Linked DNA regions of Homo sapiens: region 2 is linked to region 1. Evidence: fine-mapped expression QTL. Tissue or cell type: whole blood. Region 1 holds a variant in brackets; the other region holds the start of a gene. All regions are shown on one strand. Distances are between the middles of the regions.

Region 1 (8,104 bases):
ACGTGTAACCAGAAAGGAAAAGATTGATACATTTGACTTTTAAAAAGGTGAAAAAAGCTTCAAGTTGAAGAAAGGATTCGTATTTCATATTATCAACAAAGAGTTTGTTTTCAAAAAACATAAAAAGCCACTAGTCAGTTTTTTTTTTTTTTTTTTTTTTTGAGACGGAGTTTCGTTCTTGTTGCCCAGGCTGGAGTGAAGTGGCACAATCTCTGCTCACCGCAACCTCTGCCTCCCAGGTTCAAGCTATTCTTCTGCCTCAGCCTCCCAAGTAGCTGGGATTACAGGCATGCGCCACCATGTCCAGCTAATTTTGTATTTTTAGTAGAGATGGGGTTTCTCCATGTTGGTCAGGCTGGTCTTGTACTCCTGACCTCAGGTGATCCATCCACCTCGGCCTCCCCAAGTGCTGGGATTACAGGCATGAGCCACTATGCCCGGCCTGTCAGTTTGTAAAAAGGATAGTCAAATAGAAAAAAATGGGCAAAAACATAAATAGGTGTTTCACAATGAGGAAAAACAAATGGCCAATAAGTATGAAAAGATACTCAACCAAGAAATGCAAATTAAAATCCACAATGAGATGCCACTTTATGCCTACTATATTGGCAAACGTTTTAAAACTTGACATCAAGAGTTGGTGAGGGCCAGGAGTGTTGGCTCATGTCCATAATCCCAGCACTTTGGGAAGCTGAGATGGAAGGATCACTTGAGCCCATGAGTTCAAGACCTGTTTGCACAATATGGCAAGACCTCGTCTCTACAAAAAATTTAAAAATTAGCCTGATGTGGTGGTGTGTGCCTGGGTTTCCAGCTACTTGCGAGGCTGAGGCAGGAGGATTGCTTAAGCCCAGGAAGTCGAGGCTGCAGGAGGTTGAGCCATGATCGCACCACTGCACTCCAGCCTGGGCAATAGAGGGAGACCCTGTCTTAAAAAAAAAAAAGAGTTGGTAAGGATATGAAGCAAAAGAAACTGATACACTGCTGTTGCCAGCGTAAATTAGAAAACCACACCAGAAAACTTTGGCATTGCCTTGCAAAGTGGGCGCATATACCCAAATGTTCATCAACAGAGAGTACTATACAGCCTGTGACAATAAGTCACACACACAAATACCTACCATTTGTATAAATGATACCATTTATATAAAGTTCAAAAATATGAAAAGGTAAATATGTTGCTGTGGATATTTGCAGTGTGGCACTGGAGCTGGCTTGTACTGGCTTGGGAAGAACTGGCAAATGCCACAAAACAGCACACCACTGGGTACAGGCATATGGAGTAAAGCTCTAAAGAAAAGCAAGAGAATTACAAACAGGTAGGGAGGGGCACATCGGGGCAATATTCCTTCAACAAGGAATGTTCTAATGCTGCTCTTTTTCTTCCTAAGAAGAAAAAACAAATAGAAGTTAGCTGGGTTGAGGCGAGGGTCTGTGGTGGGTGGGGTGGGAGGTTCTGAGCAGAGGTAGCAGCAGAGGTGAATGAGGAGAGGGGATGGCTGGTTTGGGCAGTGGCAGGCACTGCAGTCCATTCTGACAAGCAGTGGGTGCGTGTAGGGCAGTGGTGAGAGCTCAGGTGGAAAGGGAGGCACCAGATCACAGAGGGCCTGTGTGCCATGGTAAGCAGTTTGGAGTTCACTCGAAGTAATGAGGAGTGTGGGCTTTGCAGAACAGAGACAAGGCAGGCAGGCCCGCGAGGAAGTTGTTGTGGTCTTGCTGAAAGATGAATCCAGAGCTGGGCCCTGATTATGAGGAGGAAGAGCAGAGGAGCTGGGCTTGAGAGGTTGTCTAGGAAGCAGAATGGACTGAGCTTGGTGACCAGTTGGATTTGGGATGTGCATGGAAAACAGGGCTCTGCTGTACTCAGAGAGGTGGAGCATAACTCCCTCACTGTAAGGGTGGGCCGCACAGTGACTGCCTTCCAAAGAGTGCAATACAGCAAGTGGGGAAGGAGGGCTGGCGCGGTGGCTCACGCCTGTAATCCCAACACTTTGGGAGGCTGAGGTGGGTGGATCACTTGAGGTCAGGAGTTTGAGACCAGCCTGGCCAACATGGTGAAACCCCGTCTCTAGTAAAAATAACAAAAATTAGCCGGGCATGGTGGCACATGCCTGTAATCTCAGCTACTTGGGAGGCTGAGGCAGGAGAATCGCTGGAACCCGGGAGGCAGAGGTTGCAGTGAGCTGAAATTGTGCCACTGCACTCCAGCCTGGGCGATGGAGTGAGACTCCATCTCAAAAAACAAAAACAAACAAACAAAAAGAAAAACACCAAACAAATTCCAATTGCAGGACATTCTACAAAACACCTGACCATTATTACTTAAACTGTCAAGGTCATCAAAAACATGGAAAGTCTGAGAAACTGTCACAGTCAGGAGGCACCAGAGGAGATGCAACAGCTAAGTGTAACGTGGCATCCTGGATGGGGTCCGGAACAGAAATAAGATATTAGGTTAAAACAACTAGTAAATCTGAATAAAATGTGGATTTTAGTTAATAATAATGTATCAATATTGGTCATTATTTGTGACAAATGTACCATACTAATGTAAGATGTTAATAATAGGGGAATGTGAATGCAGTGGCTCACACCTGTAATCCCAGCACTTTGGGAGGCCAAGCCGAGCCCAAGAGTTCAAGACCAGTCTGGGCAACATGGTGAAACCCCATCTCTACAAAACATACAAAAATTAGCCAGGCATGGTAGTGCACGCCTGTGTCTCAGCTACTTGGAAGGCTGAGGTGGAAGAATCCCTTGAGCCTGGGAGGTTGAGACTGCAGTGAGGTGTGATCCTGCCACTGCCCACCAGCCTGGGTGACAGAGTGAAGACCCTGTCTCAAAAACATGATAATGATAATAATAATAATAAAATAGGAGAATGTGGATGTGAGGTATATGGGAACTCTCTGTACTGTCTTCTCAACTTTTCTAAACTCTAAAACTGTTCTAAAATAAATGTATTTTTAAAAAATTAGCCAAATGCATTTCTTCTAAAACCTTTTTATTAAAACTAATTACTGCTCTCTTTAAAAACAAAAACAAAATAAAACAGAGCCCTGTGAGTCTTCAATTTCCGAGTTGAGTGACCTTTCACAGGGTCGCAGAATCAGCCCCAGCTCTCCCCCAGTCCTTTCACTGACTCCTCTCTGTGGCAGAGCTGAAATTTGTTTAGGGAAGTGGGACTACAACTCCCAGAGTGCACCTGTGCGGTTGTCAGGAGCAACCAAGGAAGCCAACTAACAGCCTTGCTAGAGTCTGAGGACTATCCAGGGCCTGACTGCCAGCTAGCCAGCCATGGGCCAGGATTATTACTCTGTGCTCGGGATCACTCGCAATTCAGAGGATGCCCAGATCAAGCAGGCGTAAGTTGGGGTGGGAGCCAGGCCTTAGGGGTGTGCTGGGGCAGGCCCTGCCCTCTTCTCTTCCAAAACGAGCTTTCCTGCACAGCTTAGCGCAGACAAGGTAAACCTTGTTCCTCCTTTCACTTCTTGCATACCTGTATCCTGGCTTTGGTCTGGGTCAGGGCCCAGGTTGGAAATTTGAACTCTTTAGTTCCTCAATCTGCTCCCAACCCATCTCCCTTTATGCTCCATGCCCTATATCCTCTCCTGGGTGCCTTGCTTTTCCCAGCAATGAAGTGGGGACAAAGGAGCCATTTGAACTTTATCTTGAATATTATGGAGAACCAGAGGCTTGTGAACAAGGGAGTGGCCAGGCCAGATGGATGTTTTAAATTCAATTCTGGCCATGATGGAGGTTTTCAGCATTGACTAAACTACATTCCTGAATACTTCCATCGGATCTTAAGGACGTTCTGGCTCGTTCCTAAGAAAGCCTACAACAGGAGTCAGTACATTTTTCTGAAAACATGTTTTTGTTTTTTGTTTTGAGACGGAGTCTTGGTCTTGTTGCCCAGGCTGGAGTGCAATGGCGTGATCTCGGCTCACCGCAACCTCCACCTCCTGGGTTCAAGCGATTCTTCTGCCTCAGCTTCCCAAGTAGCTGGGATTACAGGCATGCACCACCATGCCCAGCTAATTTTGTATTTTTAGTAGAGATGGGGTTTCTCCTTTTTGGTCAGGCTGGTCTCAAATTCCCGACCTCTGGTGATCCACCCGCCTCAGCCTTCCCAAGTGCTGGGATTATAGGTGTGAGTCACCGCACCTGGCCAAAAACATGTTTTTTTTTTTAACAAATATTTATTGAGCGTCTACCACAAGGGTTGAGAGGGTACTTCACTCCTGCTGCAGTGGTAGCAGCTGGAGATAAATGTCGGAATCCGACATCGACACTCCCTTACCTCATGCAGCTAGATTTTGTTGCTGAATAGATGTTGAATAAGTCACCACAACTGTGATGAGTGTTACAGAAGAGGAAGTATGGGGGGCTGTGGAAGTTATCTT[G/A]GAAGGAGAGAGACCCTTTAGGAGGCTGTTCGTGGTAATCAAGGCAAAAGATGAGGCCAGAGAAAGGGGAGGGAATGGACTTGGTAATTAAGTGGATCACTGGAGGGTGAAGAAAAGAGGAGTCCAGGATAACTCAATCAATTAAGTTAGGCAGTGACAATAGGTGTATGTTTTGAGTGTGTAGGTGCTGTTCTGAGAACTTTCCATCACTGTTTAACCCTCACAACAGCCCTGAGAATTAAGTGCCATTATTATCCCACAAGTGCACTAGTAAATGGTGGAGCCAGTGTTCAGATATCAGGCCTCCCAGAGTTGCCAGTCATGGGCCTATTCCTGGGCCAGGTCCTGTAGGGGATCAGTGGCATAAGTGGAGAGTCTGCGGTGTTGGAGAAAAAAGACACAAACTCATGAAAGGATCTGAGAACAATTCAGGACAGTGTATGATGTCACCCACTCTTCGGAGCATCTCATTGACCAGAAGGACCCATCCAGGGAAAGGTAATCAGGAGGAAGGGCAGTGGGCGTGCAGAAAGATAAGCACAGCTTAAGCACTGGAAAGGGCTGGATCAGAATCCAGATTCACTTACCTGCTAGCTGCGTGACCTGGGCAAATTACTTAACCTCTTTGAGCCGAAGTTTTCCCATGTCTAAAAATCATCATCATAATAAAGGTTGCTGTGAGATTGAAATAGGATTAGATGAGATAATGCATGTGTCCAGCAATCATTTGCATGTGAAACCATGTCATATAAAGAGTGATTAAGGCCTGGCATGGTGTTTCATGCCTGTAATCTGAGCACTTTAGGAGGCCAAAGCAGGAGGATCCCTTGGGCCCAGGAGTTTGAGAGGGCAGCCTGGGCATCATAGGGAGACCCTGTCTCTACAGAAAATTTAAAAATTAGCTGGGCATGATGGCACACACCTGTAGTCCCAGCTACTTGGGAGGCTGAGGTGGGAGGATTGCTTGAGCCCAGAAGGTAGAGGCTGCATTGAGCTATGATTGCACCACTGCACTCCAGTCTGGGCAACAGAGCAACACCTGTCTCAAAAAAATAAAAATGGCTGGGCCGGGCACCGTGGCTCATGCCTGTAATCCCAGCACTTTGGGAGGCCGAGGTAGGCGGATCACGAGGTCAGGAGATCGAGACTGTAGCAGGACGAGCCGCAGAAAAAACCTCTCAGACACCGAGTTGTAGAAGGAAGAGCTTTATTCAGCTGGGAGCATCGGCCAGCTACTGCCTTAAAATCCGAGCTCCCCGAGTGTACAATTTCTGTCCCTTTTAAGGGCTCACAACACTAAAGATTTCACATGAAAGGGTCGTGATTGATTTGAGCAAACAAGGGGTACGTGACGGGTTTCATGCACTGGTAGTCAGAGAGAAACAGAACAGGGCAGGGAGTTTCACAATGTTCTTCTATACAATGTCTGGAATCTATGAATAACATCGGTTTCTAAATTATGAGTTGATTTTTAACTACTGGGTTTAGGCCAGGCAGGCCCAGGCCTGGTTTCAGGCCTGGCGCTGGGCTGCCTGTCTTTGGTTTTACTTCCTTGTTGCTTTTTTTTAAAACAGGTACTGAGTATAAAACAATATGAGATGGTCGCTCTCTTCCCTCAAGACCATCCTGGCTAACACACTGAAACCCCGTCTCTACTAAAAAATACAAAAAATTAGCCGGGCACCTGTAGTCCCAGCTACTCGGGAGGCTGAGGCAGGAGAATGGCGTGAACCCGGGAGGTGGAGCTTACAGTGAGCGAGATTGCGCCACTGCACTCCAGCCTGGGCGACAGAGCGAGACTCTGTCTCAAAAATAATAATAAAATAATAATAATAATAATAATAATAATAATAATAATAATAATGGCTGGACACAGTGGCTCACACCTGTAATCCTAGCACTTTGGGAGGCTGAGGCAGGTGGACCACTTGAGGTCAGGAGTTTGAGACCAGCCTGGCCAACTTGGTGAAACCACTTCTCTATTAAAAATACAAAAAATTAGCCAGGTGTAGTGGCGCATGCCTGTAATCCCAGCTACTGGGGAGGCTGAGACAGGAGAATTGCTTGAACCCAGGAGGCAGAGGTTGCAGTGAGCCGAGATCGTGCCATTGCACTCCAGCCTGGGTGACAGAGTGAGACTTCGTCTCAAAAAAATAAATAAAAAAAAGTAGGCCGGGCGCAGTGGCTCACACCTGTAATCCCAGCACTTTGGGAGGCTGAGGCGGGCGGATCACGAGTTCAGGAGATCAAGACCATCCTGGATAACATGGTGAAACCCCGTCTCTACTAAAAATACAAAAAAATAGCCGGGCGTGGTAGCAGGTGCCTGTAGTCCCAGCTACTCGGGAGGGTGAGGCAGGAGAATGGCGTGAACCTGGGAGGCGGAATTTGCAGTGAGCCGAGATCGCGCCACTGCACTCCAGCCTGGGCAACAGAGTGAGACTCCGTCTCAAAAAAAAAAAATAAAATAAATAAATAAATAAATAAATAAATAAGGCTGGGCACGGTGGCTCATGCCTGTAATCCCAGCACTTTGGGAGGACGAGGCAGGAGGATCTCCTGAGGTCGGAAGTTCAAGACCAGCCTGGCCAACAAGGTAAAACCCTGTCTCTACTAAAAAAAATTAGCCAGGCGTGGTGACGGGTACCTGTAATCCCAGCTACGCGGGAGGCTGAGGCAGAAGAATCGTTTGAACCTGGGAGGTGGAGGTTGCAGTGAACCAAGATTGAGTCATTGTACTCCAGCCTGAGCAACAAGAGCAAAACTCCATTTCAAAAATAAATAATAAATAAAAATAAATAGAGTGATTAAAAGAACTATGTAGGTTTCAAAAAGCAGTCCTTAACCCTTCTCCCCTGCAATAACTCTAAGTCACATGTATGACATGCTTGCTCATGGGATCACCTAGATATTGATCAAAAAAAAAAAGAGCTAAACTTATATAAGGAAGAAAAACATCATGATAGTTTATAATTGCCCAGGATTCATAATTGCAGCGTTCAAGCTGTGATTTCACCCCTTTCTCTCCCACTCAGGAAAGCAGGTGAATGAGAGTGATGTTATTGCAGGGATAATTTTGAAACCACTCAAATTTATATGAAAAACTAAACCTTTCTCAAACCTTGTTACTTTTTTTTTTTTTTTTTTTGAAACGGAGTCTCTCTCTGCCACCCAGGCTGGAGTGCAGTGGCAGGATCTCTGCTCACTGCAACCTCCACCTTCTAGGTTCAAGTGATTCTTCTGCCTCAGCCCCCTGAGTAGCTGGGACTACAGGTGTGTGCCACTGTGCCCGGCTAATTTTTTTATTTTTAGTAGAGACGGGGTTTCACCATGTTGGCCAGCCTGGTCTCGAACTCCTGATCTCAAGTGATCTGCCTGCCTCGGCCTCCCAAATTGCTGGGATTACAGGAGACTGAGATGGGCAGATCACTTGAGGCCAGGAGTTTGAGACCAGCATGGCCAACACGGCAAAAACCCGTCTCTACTAAAAATACAAAAATTAGCCAGGTGTGGTGGTGGGCACCTGTAGTTCCAGCTACTTGAACCTGGGAGGCGGACAATGCAGTGAGCCCAGATCGCGCCACTGCACTCCAGCCTAGGTGACAGAGTGAGACTCTATCTCTAAATAAATAAATAAAAATAACTGACTGTGACCTTTATAATTGAGAAAGGCTGGTTTGGAAGGCTGTGACAATTGT
Region 2 (8,104 bases), 58 kb after region 1:
TGGCGATGGTTCTGTAGGCGTCCATAGTCCCGCTGTATTTTCTGTCGCTCCTGGATGGCCCGAGGTGTATGCTGGCCTGAAATCGGACCTTCACCACATCTGTGGGCTGGGCACAGGTCACCGCCATGGCTCCTGTGGTGCAGCCGGCCAAAATCCGGGTAGTGAGGCTGGAGTCTGGGAGGGGCAGAGAGAGTGGGCCAGTGTCCCCTACTAAGCAGCATTCTGGGACATGCTGTTCTCTGCGGGGCTGCCCCTGCAGCTTCCTTGATGTCCACTCAGAGCCTCCTCATAAGCGTCCGGTACCAGCTTCCCCCCGCCCCTGGCTCTGCCTCTGAGTCTAGACTTCCCTGGTCTCTTGACCCACACACTTTCAGCCACCCCTTTGGTGTTCAGGGACCTGGTCACTCACTGTCCGCGCCTTTGGGGGTGTACACCTGCTTGACGGAGTCATAGAGGCCGATGCGGATGGAGGCGAAGCTCATCTGGCGCTGCAGGCCGGCCACCAGCCCATTGTAGGGGCTGCAGGGACCCTCAGTCCGCACCATGGTCAGGATGGTGCCCAGCACGCCACGGTACTGCACGAGCCGGGCCGTCTGGACCGCCTGGTTCTCCCCCTGGATCTGAGGGACAATAGCAGGGGGTGAGGACTCAGATGGGAAGGCAAGAAGGGGCTGCGTGCACAGGAACCCTGCTGGGGCTGGGCCTGCCTGGGCTGGGCCTGAGAACAACCATGCTGGTCACAGTAGAAATCACTGGTGTCTGCGCAGCATTTTACCATTCACAAAGCAGTATTATACACATGGCTTGGTGTTTGATCCTCAGAGTAAATCAGAGGGACAGATTGTTTTTCCCATTTTATAAGTGCTTCGTGGCTTGCCCAAGGTCACACAGTTAATTCCTTACTTTTACCTCACACTGCATGCTTTACAAAGTAGGGCCTAGCCCATAAAGGGCCCTGTCACATCATGCAAAGAATTTAGATTTTTTTGTCCTGGTGGATGGTGATGGGAGGAGGCAAGGAAGGGTCCTAAGCAGTGGAGTGAGAGTCTTTGTCAGGGTTCTGAGGAAGGGCATGTGGGCACACGTCATGGGGGATATGGGAGAGAACTAGCCCCTCCTTCCATGTGATCAATGACCCTTGGCCAAAGGGCACCTACCTGCAGGCGGACCTTGGCTGTGTCCAGTGGAAAGGTAACGAGGTCAGCAAAACAGGCTGCTGTGCCTGCCCCCAGGAACTTCACAGCCATGGTGGGAGGCACGTCTGAAGGCTTCAGTCCAACCATAGTCCTGGAAGGCTCTGCCCAGTCCCTTTAGGGCCGAGAGGAGGTCCAAGGAGAGAGGCTGCTCCACAGCCCTGGGCTTCAGTGCAGCGGTGGGGCTGCAGGAGACAGGCCAGAGAAGGCTGATGGAGTGATGTCTGGCCTGGCTCCCAGGAACTCTTCCTTACCCAGGAGGGGCTTTAGAAAGGGAGAAGCCTGGGTGGTGCCATACTTAAGCTGCATGAATTTGGCCTATAAAAACAGGTCACGTTCCTATCCCTTGAATTTTGCAATCCTCCTCCTGACCCTCTCCCTCCCCTCCTTACCAGGGGTAGGCAGAGCTGATAGTGGTACCTGCACTGTATACATGAGGAAACCGAGGCTCAGGCATCTGTTCTCCCCAATATCAAACTGCCTCCTTTTTTTTTTTGAGACAGGGTCTCACTCTGTTACCTGGGCTGGAGTGCAGTGGTGCAATCCAGGCTCACTGCAGCCTTGACCTCTTGGACTCAAGTGACCCTCCCACCTTCAGCCTCCCGAGTAGCTGGGACTACAGGTGTGCATCACCATACCCAGCTAATTTTTTATTTTTTGTAGAGATGGGGGTCTCTCTATGTTGCCTATTCTGGTCTTGAACTCTTGGCCTCAGCGTGATCACTTGACAAGAGGGGCAGTTCTTAGCCACTCATGGAAAATGGAATGGATGGACACAGACTCAGGTCAAAAGCCCACCTTGGGGCTCTAGAACTTTCAGTAGTCAAGCTGCGGGAGGAGGGAAAGCCACAGTGGTGGGCACAGGTAGGAGGTGCCTTGAGGCCAGCACTCCCCAATCTTCTTCCCAATTCACTCCAGACTCTCCTAGACCCCTAGCAGCCGGCAGCCTTTTGCCACTGGCCAGTGGAGGAAGAAGTCAAAAGTGGAACCCTCATTACTGTAGCTCTGCTGGGGCTCCTGAGGGATGGGATGTTCTAGTCAGCATGGTCCATTAATGTTTGCTGGTTGCTTCTTGCACCAGATACCGTGCTGAGGGCTTTACAGACACTGACTGATTTGATCCCTTCATAAGGCTACAAGTAGTTGCTATTATTATTCTCATTTCGTAAACCAGGGACCTGAGGCTTCCAGGGCTTTTGCTAGTCATACAGCTGAAGTGCTGGAGCTGAGATTGGTGCCCACGTTTGTCTGACATCTGAAGCTGCGCCTGTTTCACTGCCCAGAGAGTCTCAGACTTCAGGGAGAGCCAAGGATCCCTTGAGCTGCTTGTTTACAGAGCAGATTCTCAGCTCTCAGCCCCAGAGATCCTGATTTAGGTCTGGGGTGGGGCCTAGGAATCTGCATTAGGAAAACTCCCTGTGGTAGCTCTGAAGCAGGGGAAGAGGACCCCATTTTGAGACATCCTACCCAACACCAGTTGCCTCCCCAACTCCAACCCACCCTCCCGGCAAAGCCTTCACAGCAGCCCACTGAAGAAGCCGTCTGGGCAGAGACCATGGGCTCTGTAAAGCTCCCAGCAAATGACCTGGACCACGCCTCAGGTCAGAAGTGCCCCTGTCATCCCTACTCAGGAAGAGGGCCCCAGGGTCCTCATGGAAAGAGAGGGATTTATGCTCTGGAGGAATCGCAGAGATTCTGGGGCAGGCAAAGAAGAAAGCCACTTCCTGTCTATGGGGATTTGCAAAATCCCACCAGAGGCAGCCAGCAAGGCAAAGGGGGTGTGAGTCTTGAGTGAGTGACACGGGTGTTGGGTTCAAGCCCCAGCCCTGCCACAGTACCCTCATCAAGGCCACAGCTCCCTTTTCATAAGGTGGCGGCTGGACTGAATCTCTATCAGGTCTGACAAGCTGCAGCTAGTGAGCCCTGACTGCTCGGGGCTGCTCTCTGAAAGCCTCCAATGAAAGGGAGAACAAGGAGAAGGGAGAGGGAGAGGGGAAGGGATGAGGGAGGAGAAAGGGGTCTTACCTGTGAGTCCTGCCACGGCAGGGGCAGCACAGGGGCTCCCTAGGGCTCCATCCCAGGAGGTGGCAGCAGGGATTGGATGGCCCCTCCTTGTCATTCACTGTTGTCTCTGCTGCTTCTGGCTTGGCACTGGTCTTATACACACGGGCTGACCTGAAACCTTATCCTAGAGAAGTTGGTTGACAGCCTGATCACTTGACAAGAGGCTGGCTGGTGAGGGCAGTGAGGTGAGAGGGGAGGTGAGTGAGTTCCAGATCTGGTTCAGTCCTCTTGACTTGGGGTGCTTTAATATAGCTCCTTTAAGCTGTGGACGCTTCCTTGGTGACAAGGGTGTATGGGGGGGTGGACCTGCTGCCACTTTTGAGTCCAAAGGTCAAGGCCTCCCACGATAGGCTGGGCACAGCTCTCCCAGGTCTCTTAATAATAATGTCATTTCTTTGTGCCTACTATGTGCTAAATATTTTACATACATTACTACTATTTTCCACAATCCTATGAGATAGGTACTATTAGGATTCTATTTTTTTTACTTTTTTTTTTTGTAATTTAAAATTTTTTAGTAGAGACGAGGTCTTGCTGTGTTCCCCAGGCTGGTCTTGAACTCCTGGGCTTAAGTGATCCTCCTGCCTCAGTCTGGCAAAGTGCTGGGATTATAGGTGTGAGCCACTGCACCCGACCTAATTTTTTTTTTTTAAATTACAGATTTATTGATATAGAATTCACATACCGTACAATTCATCTGTTTCAAGTGCACAATTCAAATGGTTTTTAGTATATTCTGAGTGGCACAACCATCAACACAATCTATTTTAGAACATTTTCATCACCCTCTCACCCTGGAAAAACTCCATACACATTGGTAGTCACCTCCCTTCCCCCGCTCCCCAGCCTCAGGCAACCACTAATCAATCTACTTTCTGTCTCTATAAATTTGCCTGTTCTGAACACTTCCTAGAAATGGAATCATCCAATATGTGCTTGTTTGTGACTGGCTTCTTTCACTTAGTATAGTAATGCTTTCAAAATTCATCCATGTTGGAGCCTGTATCAGTATTTCGTTTCTTTTTAGTGCTGGGGATCCTAAAATCTTACCACTTATTTTACTGAGGAGGAAATGGAATCTCAGGGAAGTCATGTAGCCAGCACGTGGCGGGGCCTGACTCCAGCCTGTAAACTGTAAGGCATTTTGGGCTTATCTACTGTGACCACCATTCTCTCCAACATGACACTTGGAGGCTTTAGCATGGACACTGCTGGAGCCAAGGGAGCTGGGACCTGGTGGAAGGGTGCCCCACAGAAGCTACTGGAGGCTCCATCTGTGGGCACTCAGAGTAAGGGCTGGGCACAGCTGAATCGGGCCCCAGGTGATGGGGGAAGGGGAGAAGAAGAAGAGAAGGGAGGGGAGGAGTGAGAAGCAGAAGGGAGGGAAGGAAAGGGAGTTAACTGGGTAGGGCAGAGGAGGAGTAGGCAGAAGTCTTTTCTGGACTGGGGCACAGAGCCAGCGTCACAGGGCAGGTGGTCAGAAGCATGGATGTTCAAGTGCAAAGCTTGGGCTGTACCTGTCCTCTTCCTTGGACCAGGCCCTGACCTTAATGTCAGCAGAATAAGCAGCTGCATTAGTGTTAAGAGGGAAGTGGCTGTCAGGGCTGCTGAGATTAGGAAGGCTCAGGAAGTAGGTTCTGAGCTCCATCTGTAATTGCTAGTCTAGAGGTGATGCAGTAAATTGCAGGGAGTCTGTGGGGGAAGAATAGAGTAGAAGCCCAAACCAGGAGGCAGCAGGCTCTGGAGAAACCTAGTGGGAGGGAGGGCCAGGCTCTCTTTAGCTTGGGAGCTTGAGGGCAGGGCCAGGTCTGCCTGCTTTGGCTCCATGTCCTGAGGCCAGCCCATGCTAGAAGTCCGAAGGCTGCCTGCTCTGGGTTGGGATGCAACCAGCCTAGGGATCAGAAACACCTATTCACAGGTCTCTGTGGAGGGAGGGCTCAAAGGGAAGAGAGGCAGCCACTGGCTCGTTCTGGTGGTGGGAACACCTATCTCATGCCTTAATCCATGCCACACGCCTGGTCAAGTCATTTATCTCGGAGTTGGCACTGGGAGATAGATTCAACTTCCGGGGATAAGATATTGATAAATAACACACTGTTTTGAAGTGGAGGTGGGAGGTCTCCACCCTCAGGGTCCTTTTGTGTTATCAGAGGCTGCTCTCAGCCTGGGGTAGGAGTGTGTCCTCCTGACCCCGATCAGGTTGTCTGCGGGAGCTGGAGTGGGATTTGGAGGAATATTCTTTACCTGGGGCTTTCCCCCTCAGGCCTGGGCCCTGACTGCCCCTCTTTAGGTCCCCTGGGCCCCAAGGGAAGTGGGGCCCTGGGCCTTGAATGCTCTGTGCTGGTGACTTGAGAGGGAGGCTGGCCTCTGTGGTGCTGGGGAGGGGTGGGCTGGCAGGCGTCGGAGCAGAGATAAATAGAAGCGGGAGGGCTTGTCACCAAGAAGGCAGCACCCACTCCTTCCTTGAGGTTCCCGCATCATTTTGCACCCTCTGAGGCCCAGGAGTGCTCTGCCTGCCCCAGTGGCTGCATGCTTGCCTCTCTACTGGTTTGCTCCCGAAAGTCAGGAGAGTGGGTGGGGCTGACATTTCCTAAGCTTCCACCATGTGCCAAAAGTAGGCGAAGCACTTTCACAAATGTCATCTCATTTGATCTTCCTCACAACCCCATGAAGCTGGGGTGATTATCTCTGTTTTACAGACGAGGCCACAGAGGCTCAGACGCAGTGAGACTGGTCTCTATCTCCAGCTGCACACTGCTCACAGGCTTTCCTGGCTCTCTCTCTATAGCTGTCCACAGCCTGGGCCAATTCTCTGTGCTCACCCCAAGACCTGTCTCTTCTAGGAAGCCTTCCCTGACTGCCCCAGCCCACATGGTCTTTCTCCATGAAGTCCCTAAATTCAGAGCACTTATTGGCTGTACCTTGTTTTGATTACTGAAAGCAGTAGCCTTGCAATACCTCTGGGATTTCTTGTGTGGTTAATCACTTCCTAACTACACAAACAGAGGCAAAACACTGAACTTACAGAAACTCTAGATATCATAATATCTAGAGTTAGAGAGCTGTTTTGAGGACTGAGTGAAGTGACATGTACTTGGGGGTGAAAGCCTGTTGCCCAGCCACACTGCTCACTCTGCACATTTGGCTCCCGCGACCCCATTTTTTTTTTTTTTTTTTGTGATACGGAGTCTTGCTCTGTTGTCCAGGCTGGAGTGCAGTGGCGTGGTCTCGGTTCACTGCAACCTCCACCTCTTGGGTTCAAGTGATTCTCCTGCCTCAGCCTCCTGAGTAGCTAGGACTACAGGCGTGCACCACGCCCAGCTAATTTTTGTATTTTTTTTTTTTTTAGTAGAGACGGGGTTTTGCCAGGTTGGCCAGGGTAGTCTCAAACTCCTGACCTCAGGTGATCTGCCTGCCTCGGCTTCCCAAAGTGTTTGGATTACAGGTGTGAGCCACTGCACCCATCCATGGCCCTTTTCTTGTCCTCCCCACGGGGCTTTGTCTGATGGATTTCAAGCATCAGCAAAGGAAATACTGGGTGTCACTGTCATCTGGACCAACCTGATTCTGGAGGAGCCAGAAGTCTCATGGTGATTGATCTTCGTCTGCGTGGGGTGTATGGTTGTTAATCTTTCTCTCTGGCAGTTAGGGCACACACGAATTCCTAGCATCCCCACTCCAGCGAAACACTTGTGCACAGATTACAAACACCAATATGATTTTATTCAAACACAGGCAAGAACAATGACCTTCAGAGCTGGGTAAAAATAATAAGTTAAAAGCATGGTTAGAATTTTAGACAATCAGATAAAAAGTTTGAAGGAAGTGATTTCCCCTTCCTCTCCTAATTGATTAATTCAACACAGCATAAAAATAATTTGTATCTATAAAATATCCTTGTTCCCACACAAATGAACTGGAGGTGGCCCTAGGATTTCCTTGACTATGCACAATGCACACAATCTACATGTCCCTCCTCCCCAACTTTTAAGGCAAAAATGGTCCTGCATCTTCAGGCAGAGGGTGGGCTCATGCCAGCAGTCAGCTGTGTCAAGGACACTGGGGGGCGTTTCTCCACCGAAAGATGCCTGCTTGGGTCCCACTTGGGCGCGGATTCCATTTTATTTCTAGCCTTTGCCTCACCACAGAAAAAAGGAGCTGAAATTCTGGCAAGTGGACACTGGACTGGTTTGGGGCACTCCTCCAGTCTGGGCTGACCGGGTCTCTTGAGGCATCCGTGGCCTAGGCAAGTGGTGGTTTCAGGACTGTGACAGCCCTGAAGGAGCCAGACCTGGTGCCTCCTGCAAGCTGGACAAAGCTGACGGAGGGTGGGCAGGTGTCTCCTTCCCCCCAGCCCCTCAGGCTGCGTCAGTCTTTCTGGGAGTACTGAGAAGAAAATATCCGTGCAATCCTGAGAGTTTCTTCCTCAGGCAGGTTGAGGGGGAGCGAGTTAGGTCTGGGGCGACAAGGCCTTTGGGAGAGAGCTCCCCTGGTGGCTTCGCTCTTGTCCTGGAGAGGAAGAAGTCAGCTAGGTTACCACTGAGGATATGGCACCACCAATGGATGACGCTGGTTTCTCTCATCTTTTGGTCCTTTGGTTAATATTTATGTAGAGCTGCCTGGTTTACAAAGCGCTTTACGTACCTTATCTTGCTTGACCCTTACCTCAACCCCATATGGGGGGTATATCATTCTCCCCATGTCGTGGATAAGGAAACTACATTCAGGTGGAATAAACTCAAGGTCCCACAGCTCTGAGTAGCAGAGCTGGGACGTGAACCCCAGCCCTGACTCTTTCTGTGCCTCTGGAGAAGGAGGCAGCGTCACCTCCAGGATAGGTTTGAATC

What was found. PIP is the estimated chance that this variant, and not a neighbour inherited with it, causes the effect.
Region 2: UCP3 starts here. The variant in region 1 is fine-mapped to the expression of UCP3 in whole blood (TOPMed, PIP above 0.99).

Annotation. Positions count from the first base shown.
Region 1 is chr11:73,947,773-73,955,876 of GRCh38, forward strand. DNAJB13 (DnaJ heat shock protein family (Hsp40) member B13) reads left to right here and starts at 3,254. Exons shown (of 8, transcript NM_153614.4): 1 at 3,254-3,365. The coding sequence starts at 3,298. The variant G/A (reference allele first, on the strand shown) is at 4,407.
Region 2 is chr11:74,005,760-74,013,863 of GRCh38, forward strand. It overlaps UCP3 (uncoupling protein 3), which reads right to left and starts at 3,326. Exons shown (of 7, transcript NM_003356.4): 1 at 3,219-3,326; 2 at 1,158-1,378; 3 at 410-620; 4 at 1-174. The coding sequence starts at 1,283. C2CD3 (C2 domain containing 3 centriole elongation regulator) reads right to left here. Exons shown (of 33, transcript NM_001286577.2): 33 at 6,959-7,766. The coding sequence ends at 7,626. RefSeq lists a silencer at 2,621-2,801 and enhancers at 2,935-3,574, 6,147-6,296.